Linked DNA regions of Homo sapiens. The protein of the gene in region 2 interacts with the protein of the main gene of each other region in a pairwise test. Each region holds a gene or a part of one and is shown on either strand. Other genes may lie near its edges.

Region 1 (3,971 bases), on a different chromosome or scaffold from region 2:
TCGGCCAAGGGCCCCCACCCCAAACATTTCTCCCTGCTGGTCGGCCTTCTCGTTCCCACTCCGCAGGAACCACTGGAAGACAGGCTTCCGGGGAAAACGGCCTGGGGTTTACAAATAACCCAGGAAGCCCATGAGGGGCTCTCAGGTCCACCTCGGAGGCGAGCAGGGCAGGGCTTCCAGCTACGCAGGCGGAAGTGACTTGCGCAAACCCACCCGCAGAGAACAAGCCGCAGTCAGGGCCAGGGCCTGGGCTTGGCTGCAGGGGTCGGCGTCGGGGCTCTTCCCAGCTGGAGGTGAATGGTGCCTGGGGACCCAGGCTTTTCCTCCCCAGCAGGCACGTGGGCCGGTTTCCAGAAGACTAGGCTGGGTGGCAGGACGAACCGGGTCCCCAGCAGGTGGGACAGGGCACAGGGGATCTGACTTTCACAGGACGCCTGCTTGGTAAGGACACGTGACTCTCGCCAGCTCCTTTCAGCCCTGAGGGGCGGAGGGTGGGGGGTGGTCTCCTCATTTTACAACTGAAGAAACTGAGGCTCAGATAGGCTAAGGGGACCATGACCAGGATTCAAGCCCAGGTCTGAGGCCGCCATCCACAGTGCCTCTCCACAGCGCCCCACCTTCAGGGTCCCCACCGCTCCAGCCCAGTGAGCAGAGCAGCCCTGCTGCGACAGTCTCTTTATTTCCATCTCAGTCTCCCCTGCCTGCTCATTCCTGGGGCTCCAGGCCCCAAGCTCAGCAGCAGAGAGTTTATAAATAAATAAATTACAAAAGCGGGCAGGGAGTGGCCTGGCCAGCCCTCCCGGGGCTATGGCTCAGTGCTCAGTGAGTGACAGCTGCAGGATCCGCTGTAAGTCCTCCTCCTCCTGCTGCCCGCGCCGCTCCCGCTCCTCCTGCTCCCGTGAAGACAACTCCAGGGCCAGGCGCAGCTGCTCTTCAAAGCTGGGTGGACCGGGGGCTGGGGGTGTCCTGGGAGGGGATCCTGGGCCCCTGGGCTCTGTGGACAGCTGCAGGCTTTCCTGGAGGGCCCTTCCAGGCAGGGCAGGGGAGGGAAGAACAGGCCAGTGAGCGCCAAGGCTGGGGCAGAAGCCGAGGGGCTGGGGACCGGCTTTGGAGGACAAAGGCAAAGACAGGGTGGCAAGCAGAGGAGACAAGGCAGGGCCCTGCTTCCCCACCCCTCACACCACCTTTGGTGGCAGATAGCGCTGCTGACAGAGGGTGGCCTTGCAGAGGGCCTGGGGTCCTAGCACCTTCCTGCTATCCCCCTCCCCGCCAAGCCAGGGCTGGGGGGACAGGGACCCAGCCAGCCCCATGAGGGGCTCACCGCTCCAGCTGAAGCTGTTCCTCATAAACCGTGGCCTGGGGAGGAGGGCGGGCACCGGGCCGGGTGTTGGTCAGGGCTTCCCAGACGGTCACCTGCAGCCACCAGAGCCCACAGCTGTCACTTCTGCCGTGTGGCTGCAGAGGCCAGAGCCCACCCCCTGGGCAAGTCCCACCTGCTCCGCCTCAGTGCCCGCTTCAAGCAGGCTCTGCTGGATGGCGAACTGCAGGAGGTCATCGTCCTCGTCCCGGAGGGGCTCGTTGCGCTCCATGCCCAGCACGCTGTACCCGTTGGGCACTTCAAACACGGTGGGGTCCACCTCGCACGGGAAAGGGTTCCCTAGGCAGGTGGCAGAGGGGCCACGCTCAACCCGCGGGGCTTGGTGACCAGAAAGCTGTGCAGGCTCCCTCTTCCTCCCGTTGGGGTACCTGATGCGGCAACAGCAGAGCTGGGGGCCGGCACCCACACGGAGCTCAGGGGCTCATCACAGCCACACAGGTTGCTGAAGGTGATGCGGGCATTGAGCACGTGGAAAAGGGGAATCTCTGTGAGAAGACAGCCACGCCTGAGCCCTGGCGGAGAGCCACCTGTGCCTCCGGCCCCTGCAGCTCTCCAGGGACTGCGCTGAGGGAGGGTGCCATGCCTGAGGTCCTCCCGCTGCCTGTGCCCAGCCTCTCACCAATTTTGACGGGGAAGCCAGGTGGAAGGCGCAGAGTGATGAAGTCGCGCAGCTTGGCAAAGTGAGCGTTGCTGATGGCCATTAGGTCGATGATGGGGGTCACCTGGTCACCCAGGGAGAGCGGGTGCTCTTCACTCAGCCACAGTGTTGCCTTGAACCTGCCCAGCCGACCACAGGACATGGGTGAGGCACGGCTGGTGGCCCTTCCATTGAGGACTGCCCTCTGGTTCGTGGGCAGCTGCCTTTACCCACCTTCTGCCTGGCCTGGAGTGCCCTGCTCTGCTCAGATGCCGCTGCCCGCCTCCCCCGGGAGCTGGTGTCCTGGCCACGTGGCCCAAGCTGCCCTCCTCCCTGGGCCCAGGCTGGGGCTCCTGAGGATTTCGTACCAGCTCATCTGGTCTGGACAAGGAGGCCAGGTGCCAGGCTGTGGGCTTCTCTCTGGGCCTGGCCCACAGCCCCGTTTTCCTCCTCAGCCCAGAGCTGGTCACCAGCTCACGTGTTGCCAAACTTTTATGTCCAGCACACCCCAGGGCAAGACTGCCAGGGTTCGAATCCCAGCGACTGTTGGGTGGCTAAGAGAATCCTCCTGAGATGGTGGGGAGAGCGCTAGGCTTGTGCAGGCACTGTGCCTGCTGTTACCGCCTATACCTGCTCAAGGCTCCTCACGAGGCAAGAGCGTAACTGTTCTGTTCCACCAAGGCAGACGCTCCACTCCCAGGCCACGTCGCTGGGGGCCCTTCCCACTGTGCCACGCTGGCCCCAGCAGGTACTCATGAAATTCAATAGAAAACCATACATGGGTGGCACCATCCATTCATCAAAGACAAACTACCGGTTTTCTGTGCCAAGCCCCTTGCTAAGGGCTGAGGACCATGGATAAGGCAGACATGACTCCTGCCCTCCAGGAGTGGAGTCCAGAGAGAAGCCAGCCGAGGGAGTGGGTCCCTAACTATGACAGGCCCAGAGAGGGGTCTGCAAGAGCCCTTGTCCCGAGGCAAGTCCCCAGCCAGCTCTCAGACCTCACCTCTGTACTTTGCTGGACATCTCGATGGGGCGGCCAATGTTCCGTGACTCCAGGCTGAAGTTGGGGTCGAAGTACTCCTCAGGGGAGATGGCTGTGGGGTTGGTGGGGCTGGCTGCCTGCTGCACGGGGGCCTGCGTGGGTCCCAGGGCGGACTCAGCCATCAAGGTGACAGAGGGTGCCCTCCCGCCCAGGCTCGGCCCCCCGCCAGCCCTGTCTCGGCCCAGCCCCGGCTCACCCCGGTGTGGGAGGAATGCTGCTGCGCCATCCCCAGGAAGGACTGGAATGGAGTCTTCCCCGCTACGGAGAAGGGGTGGGAGCTGGTAAGGGGTCACAATGCTCGCATCGCCCCTGCCCACCTCCACCCCTGGAGCCTACTGTCTGGGGGAAGAGGGGTCAGACGGGAATGGGGAGGCCTCCCAGCTCATCCTGGGAAACTCTGGCCCCTAATCCCAGGCCAGGGTGACCCCACCACACGGTGTGACCGGGCAGCAGGCAGGCGCACCTGGGTTTACCTTTGCTCCTCGACTTGTCCTGATCAGAGAGGTGCTCCGTGCGTGTGCGTGTCACCAGCTCCACGTTGGTGGCACTGTACACCTGGGGAGCAGGGGACACGGGGAGCTGGGGGCTCAGAGCCTGCTCCCCACACTCAGCCTCACCAGTGCAGAACCCAGGTCCTCCTGTCCCAGAGACAGATGAGATCTTGCTCCCCAAAATGGAGGAGGTGGCAGGGTCTGAACCCCAGGAAGTCACCAACGAGGAGATGCAGCCCCAGGGTCAAGAGGAACACACTCCTCTTTTGATCTCGGTACCCTGGGTAGGGGCCCATGATGTGGGTGAGCCCTGTGTACTCCGCAGGGGCTGGGCACTCAGGCCCGCTGAGTTCCCACAAATGCTCAGGGTTTCCAGAGCCCAGGGGCTACTCTGGGATGGATGTGGAGAGGAGCTGAGTT
Region 2 (7,164 bases):
TTATATTTTCTTGTGATAAAAATACACACATTGGAATATATACAGATGAAATGTGACACCTGAGATTTGCTTCCAAACAATAAGAGAATTTAATCTCACAAATGGACTAGGGAGCACGAAGGATCTAATTCCCACCCTGCTTGGAATATTCATCCTTCTGAAGTTTATCAGAAGACACAAGGCCAGCAGCAGAGCCCAGGAAGGGGGTGCAGATGAAACCATTGTTGAAGCTGGGTGAAAGGTATATGTGGGTTCATCGTATACTGCATAAATGTAAACTTTTCCATAACACGAGGTTTTTAAAAAACAACCTCTGTCACATGCATAAATTCAAAACATGTGATACAAGGCTTTTTTCCCCTAAAGCACCAAGAGAGTCATGGTGCCTAAAGCCATCCTCTTAAATTTGTATTTAATTGTTCTATAAATACAGTATCTACTGCTTCTGTTGTCACTTTGCAAATTCTGAGGTCAATCTCAGGAACAAGTCACAAAAAGTAGGAATAGCCAACAGTTATAGAGTTGCATATAGACCTGTGTTTGGAGAGTATGGGGAAGAATGGGGAAAGACATATAGCAGAGAACTTGTCAGTTCCAAATCACTGATTTCTTTCTCTCCTCTGGTGTGCCCAGACCTGGAGACAAGGACATACCCAGCCAGCAGACCAGGAGTATTAACCTTCACCTTCTGGTGGAAGGCCTTTTTTTTTCTTTTCTTTTCTTTTGGTACTTCATCAAATTCAACTGTGGCTTGACCGATATCTAAGTGCATTTACCTCTGAAATGATTCACAATAGTAAACTGATTTCAGCTTTTAATTTTAGAAGACAAAAAATAGTTTTTAAGAATCCTAAACTAGCTATGTTTGAGAAGACAATAGATTATGATTTTATAAAGAGCAAATTCCTAAAAATATATGCAAGATCATTACTGGCCCGTGGTATTTAGAGAAATGAAATGCACCCACCATTTGGCTGGACTTAGTCAGACAAACAGAATAGGTGGCATAACGGGTCTAATTCCTACCTTGTCTGGAATATCCATCCTTCTGTAGTTTTCCTGAACACTCATAGAGGCCAGTGGCAGAGCCCACAGGCAGAGCCACCAGGGTGGCGTTTTTTCATGAGGCACAAATCATGGCTTTCACTCACCACAGTCCAGCACGTACCCCAATAAGTTCATTCAACATGAAAGTATTTCAAAAGGAAAGCAAACTGACACTGGATGAAGTATACAATTTCAGGCGAGTCTCAAGGAACCTAACGTTCTTAATGTTCTTATTCAAACAATTACTTTGGGTTCAATTAGTTCTTCGAGTCCTTTTTTTTTTTTTTCAATTTGGTCTTGAATTGCAGTATGTGTGAAACTGCAAAAGCCGTTCTTACCATTCAGGACATACACTGATTATACATCTTACTAAAACCTAGCAGCATTGCTAGACTTTCAGATTTACACAGTGAGTTCATAGAAAGGTTATTTACGGTCGGCTGTGGTGGCTCATGCCTCTAATCCCCACACTTTGGGAGGCCGAGGCAGGAGGATCGCTTGAGCTCAGGAGTTGGAAACCAGCCTGGGCAACATGGGGAAACTCTGTCCCTTAAAAATAAAAATTAAAAATTAAAAAAAAAAGATATAAAGAGAGGTTATTTACTGTGCTCATCTTCCATAGTCATTCCACAAAGATGTGTTTCCAAGTCTCTCAACACCCAGAAAACGTCAAGGGGTTGGATGCCTTGGAAATTGTGAGATTGTTAGGAGGCAGGGGGGAGTGGCCACCCGGTGTCCATAGATACTGGCTGGCAGCAGCTTTTCTCTGAAGTTGGGCACTCTTTGGCCCCAGGCTCAGCGTTCCCGGTTGGAGGAGGGAGGAGTGGGTCCTGTAGAGCAGACATCTCTAGCTAGCTGCTGGGCACTCCAGGACTTTTGGCCAGCTCATCCATAATGACAGGTCCCGGTTCTCACAAACTGAATTCTGCACAGCAGCCTGCATGGCTCCAGGAACCCAGTGGGGTTAAGGCCTTCCTTTAATGACCAGGTACAAGCGCCAGTTCACACACACCCCCTCATTACCTCCTGAACTCGTCTGGGGGTCGAGCCACCCTACACATTTCACATTTACGTGTGTCTTAATGCAGAATAAAACAAGCGATGTGCCCCAGTCAAACTGTCCCATCTCACAAATACACCTACTATGTGCCAGGCATTCTTGATACATCAGTGAACAAAAATGATCAAAATCCCTGCCCTCCCAGCACAGACGTTGTCAGTGCAGCAAATACTCAATAACCAAAAGAAGTTTAATCATTTTCCTCCCACTTTCCTGCCACCCACACCCTGTCCTTCCAATCTCCCAAAGAGCTGGGTGTCTTTAATTCTATTAGCTTGACAGGGAAAATAAAATTCTTCAGCCTGCGCGCAACAGACACTACCCAGGTGCAACCCAATTCACCCCTGAACTCGACCGTCGCGGAACATTTTTCTCCAGCCTCCAAAAACTTCAGGTGGCGTGAGGCTCCCCCAACTGCAGCCCTGGAGGCCAACAAAGGGGCAATGGAGAGGAACGACCAGAGCCCCCTATCACCGGGATGACCGGGCGAACGGGGCGCGCGCGCGGTACTCACCGAGGAGCCGGCCCAGAACGGGCACGAGTTCTTCACCTGCGGGGAGCTGCTCAGCGACAGCGCCCCGAAGCTGAGCGCCACCATGCAGCAGCCCAAGATCAGCTGAAGCAGCCCAAGTGACAGCAGCGGGCGGGCGGGCAGCAGCGCGGAGCCCGGGGCCGCGGCGGCAGCGGCGGCGACTGCCCGGCGGGAGGAGAGCGCCGGCGGCGCGGCCAGCACCCCGGCAGCAGCGGTGGCCGCGCAGCGAGGCCGCGACGGGGGCTGCAGCGCGCCCCGGGGCCAGCGCGGCCGCAGCGGGGGCAGCGGCGGCTCCTGAGCGGCGGCGGCAGCGGCGCCCGGGCCCCCGGCCTGCGGCCCACCCGAAAGCCCAGCCACGGGGCAGCAGGAGCCCGGGAGCACCACGGGCAGGGACATGGACGGACGGGGAAGGGTGCGGCCGGGTGCGGCCGGCTGCGGCGGGCAGAGGACGCGGAGCGGAGCCGAGCCGAAGGCGCAGCACACTGGGCACTGCAGACGGGCTCCGAGGCCGAGGGGGAGGGAAGGAAATGCGCACGGCCCAACCACTTGCTGCCGCCGCTGCCGCTGCCCTGGCTCCAGCCGGCCGCACCCACCTGCCGCCTGGCGGGTCCGCCTCCCGCTGGCCCTGGGCGCACCCTCACTCTCACCCACGCGCACTCCGTGCTCGCGCTGTGCCGGGGCAAGTGCGCCACAGCCTCAGGGTCCCCGCCGAACCTGCGCCGGCTTCCTGGGGTCCTGGGAGGGTGCCCTGCCCCAAATATTTAAGTAAGTCCCTCGAGGTGGGAGGCACCTCACGGCCAGGACACGTCAGCGCCGGCCACCGAGAGTCTCAGCGTCTGTCCCCACCCGCCGAGCTGGGGCTAGAGAAGAGCGAGGAGCCTTCTCTGTCCAGCCACGAGAGAGGCCCTGGCGCGCTTTAGTGAGAAGGGGGCCCGCCCTTAAACTTTTGCCCAAGGAGGGGGATGCCTGGAGGAGGGGCTTTGGGGCGACTCGATGGGAAGAGGTGTAAGCCAAGGACTTCGGGAAGGACGACGCCGAGCGCAGTTACCGCTCACAGGGCGCAGGACGTGCCTACCTCGCATCGGCGCGGGAGTGCTTTCCCGGCATCTCGGTAGGAGCGGGAATGAAAGGACTGGGTTACCTTGGAAGCATCCAGCATCCGTAAAGAAAGTACCCGGGGCAGCCCGGAGTGCATGGCAAGTGTAACGCTCTGTCCTCTCATTGACTTATGAGCTATATCAGGCATCTATTAGGCATCACCTGATAGAACACGGAACCCCCAAACTTCCGAGGAAATATCCTAATAAAATCCTAAACTACTCTGGTAATTTATGAAAAATCTTTAGAGCAAAAAAAAAAAAAAAAAAAAAAAAAAGATTCCTCTTTGCAAAATGAATTCCCTTAATAATATACTTTTCACCTCGGAAGAATTCTAATGCGTAGAAAGTTTCGTGCCTAAAATGATTATAATGGACTTTTTTTCCTGATAAGAACCAGAGCAGTGTTCTTTGCAGTTAGTCAGTTCCAGTATTAGAAAGCTTATCTTACCATAAGGTATTTAACATCCTCCTACCCAATAAACCAAGAAAAGTATGTGTCAGTTTTTATGCTCTGCTTGTGGAAGCTGGATTTATATTGGTCGTTACACTTTAACCCAATGTAATATACTGTCAATGTGCCCAAGTTTACATGCACACTTCTTAAATTATTAAAGCACTTGTCTTTAATGGTGCCTAGGACTTCCTTTACAGACTGCTCCCATGAATAAATTCAAATTCTGGAGGAAAAGGGAAATGTCTTTCAAAATAAGTGTTTAAAGTCTGTTGATTCATGCAGGGGTTTTTTGTTTTGTTTTGTTTTGTTTGAGATGGTGTCTCGCTCTGTTGCCCAGGCTGGAGTGCAATGGCGTGATCTCGGCTCACTGCAACCTCCGCCTCCCGGGTTCAAGCGATTCTCCTGCCTCAGCCTCCAGAGTAGCTGGGACTACAGGTGCCCGCCACCACACCCAGCTAATTTTTATATTTTTTAATAGAGACGGGGTTTCACCATGTTGGCCAGGATGGTCTGGATCTCTTGACCTCGTGATCCGCCCGCCTCGGCCTCCCAAAGTGCTGGGATTACAGGCGTGAGCCACCGCGCCCGGCTTCATGCAGTTTTTAAAAATGCCATACAGTATATGCTCTTAAATTGCTGCTGATGTTAAATGAAAAGCTTCTTGGGGCTGAGGTTATACTCTATTTTATATACAAGCTTAACAGTATTTAATTTTTAACAATGTATTACACCATGCAATATAGTAAGTCTGACTGAGTCTTAAGAAATTCTCTCAGCTAAACAAATCTATTTCATTGGCCAGTTCTTGACACCTGAAACTTACTACAAAAAATGTATTATTTGTGTCTAAGAATGTTGCTGTTAGAAGTCAGGATATCCACTGGTCCTTGAGGAGGGACATGATTATGACTGGAAAGAGGGTTTCAAGGGGTGCTGGTGACTATTTCTTTCTTGATGTGGGTACTAATTACATGAGTAAGGTTCATTTTGTGAAAATTCATGGAGTTACAGTTATGATTTGTGTGCATCTCTGTGTATATTATATACTTAAATACTGTAAAGTATTTCCAAATACTTTATTCTTAAAATTTTTAAAGCCTTTTTCCCCATGCAGAAACAGATGATAGCAAAAATAACTGAAATCCGTGGATGATTTTATCATCTTAAAGGCTTTACTCATTTTATAAGGTGACTAAAACTTTTCCAAAGCTACTAATTAAGGGTTGTTGTACAGTCATTTGTTGTTGTTGTTGGCCACATTTATAACTGAGTTTCTTTTTCTGGTTATAAACACAAATCCATGTAACACTACCCCAACCTTTAAAATTATGCCAATAAAAATATCAAGTATTTGGGCTTGGTATTTTTGTAAACCAAGCTTGATTCTTTGCATCTCCCAAACCCTGCTTACATTAAGTCTTTAGTTAGACCTGAACAACCTGTATGTAACTAAGCTCTTATAGGATAATTCAGAGCCATTGATTTCCGTTTGTCTTAATAAAAAAAAAAAAAAAAACTGAAGACTTCTGAAAACAGTCTGGCAATTTCTCAGGAAGTCAAGTATAGTGTTTGTTGTCATTTGACCCACTTATTCCACTCCTAGGTATATACCCAAAAGAAATGAACATATTCACACAAAAACCAGTGCACAAGTAGCAGCATTATTCACAACAGCCAAAAGGTGGAAGCAATCCAAGTGTCAATCAACTGGATGAACGGATTAACAAAACATGGAATATGCAGCCAGTGGAGTATATTTGTCAGTAAAAAGGAATGAGGTGCTCATCTATGCTACATGTAGAAACCTTAAAAACATTATACTAAGTTTCAAAATATCATATGTACCCCATAATATGTACAACTATTATGTATCCACAATAATTAAAAATTTTGTAGACATTATGCTAAGTGAAAAAAGCCAGTCACAAATGACCACATATGATATGATTCCATTTATCTAAATTGTCTAGAATAGAGAAATTTGTAGAGACAGAAAGTAGCTTACCGGCTGCTTAGGGCTGGGGAAATGGGGAGATTGCGAGGGGATGATGGCTAAAGGATATGTGGGTTCTTTTTAAGGTGGTGAAAATGTTCTAAAATTGATTGTACTGATGATTGTACAACTCTGTGAATGTACTAAAAACCAGTGAATTGTACACTTTAATGGGTGAATTGTATGTACGGTATGTGAATTATATCTCAATAAAGTTATCAAAAAATTTAAAAATAAAGTGTGGAAGAACCTGTGAAAAATTTGCCCCAGATTCTTCATTAATGTAGGCCAAAGTTCAAGGAAACAATAGCTGGAGTGTGTTGTTTGGTGGAACCCAGCTGCCAGTTTTCCTCAAGATCAAAGCTCAACTCCAAGAAGGTTCCGTACACCTTCTACCAATGCTTCCCCTCCCTGTCCCTCATTTTCCACTCCTTGCACTAGGAGCCTCCTCCACTGAGGAGTTCAGGCTCTTTGCCCAGGTTTCTTGGACACCTTTTTTTTTTCTTTTTTGAGACAGAGTCTCTCTCTTTTGCCCAGGCTGGAGTGCAGTGACTTGATCTCAGCTCACCGCAACCTCCAGGCTCCCAGGAGCCTGGCTCCCAGCCTCCCAGGCTCAAGCAATTCTTCTGCCTCAGCCTCCTTTATAGCTGGGATTACAGGTGCACACCACCACACTCGGCTAATTTTTGTATTTGTATTTGTAGTAGCAACAGGGTTTCACCATGTTGGGCAGGCTGGTCTCGAACTCCTGACCTCGTGATCTGCCCACCTCAGCCTCCCAAGGACCCTTTAAATAAACTCCTCAGTTCCTTCCACACTTCTCAGAAGACCCCCATCTGTCAGCTAATTAAAGGAGGCTGTTCCACATCGGAGTGAGAGCTGCTGAAGAAACTCTTTAAAACCTGTTCCCTGGCAAGATCCTCCAGGTCTTATATTTTACAAAAAAGGAAGTGCTTCTCTGAATTAAGGCATAGTGGA

The links.
Region 1: the proteins of ENTREP1 (region 2) and ANKRD13D interact in binary tests that used the Homo sapiens proteins (3 or more experiments, as listed by UniProt).

What each region holds. Positions count from the first base shown.
Region 1 is NC_000011.10:67,299,174-67,303,144, reverse strand, and holds the end of ANKRD13D (ankyrin repeat domain-containing protein 13D), read right to left. Parts: intron 3,616-3,971; coding exon 3,534-3,615; exon of another isoform or gene 3,524-3,533; intron 3,319-3,523; coding exon 3,257-3,318; intron 3,153-3,256; coding exon 3,022-3,152; intron 2,156-3,021; coding exon 1,998-2,155; intron 1,864-1,997; coding exon 1,747-1,863; intron 1,658-1,746; coding exon 1,494-1,657; intron 1,414-1,493; coding exon 1,322-1,413; intron 1,027-1,321; coding exon 813-1,026; 3' UTR 661-812; downstream 1-660. UniProt on the Homo sapiens protein: Ubiquitin-binding protein that specifically recognizes and binds 'Lys-63'-linked ubiquitin. Does not bind 'Lys-48'-linked ubiquitin.
Region 2 is NC_000009.12:69,321,181-69,328,344, reverse strand, and holds the start of ENTREP1 (endosomal transmembrane epsin interactor 1), read right to left. Parts: upstream 3,131-7,164; 5' UTR 3,036-3,130; coding exon 2,622-3,035; intron 1-2,621. UniProt on the Homo sapiens protein: Functions as an activator of the E3 ubiquitin protein ligase ITCH in the ubiquitination of the CXCL12-activated CXCR4 receptor. Thereby, triggers CXCR4 endocytosis and desensitization, negatively regulating the CXCL12/CXCR4 signaling pathway.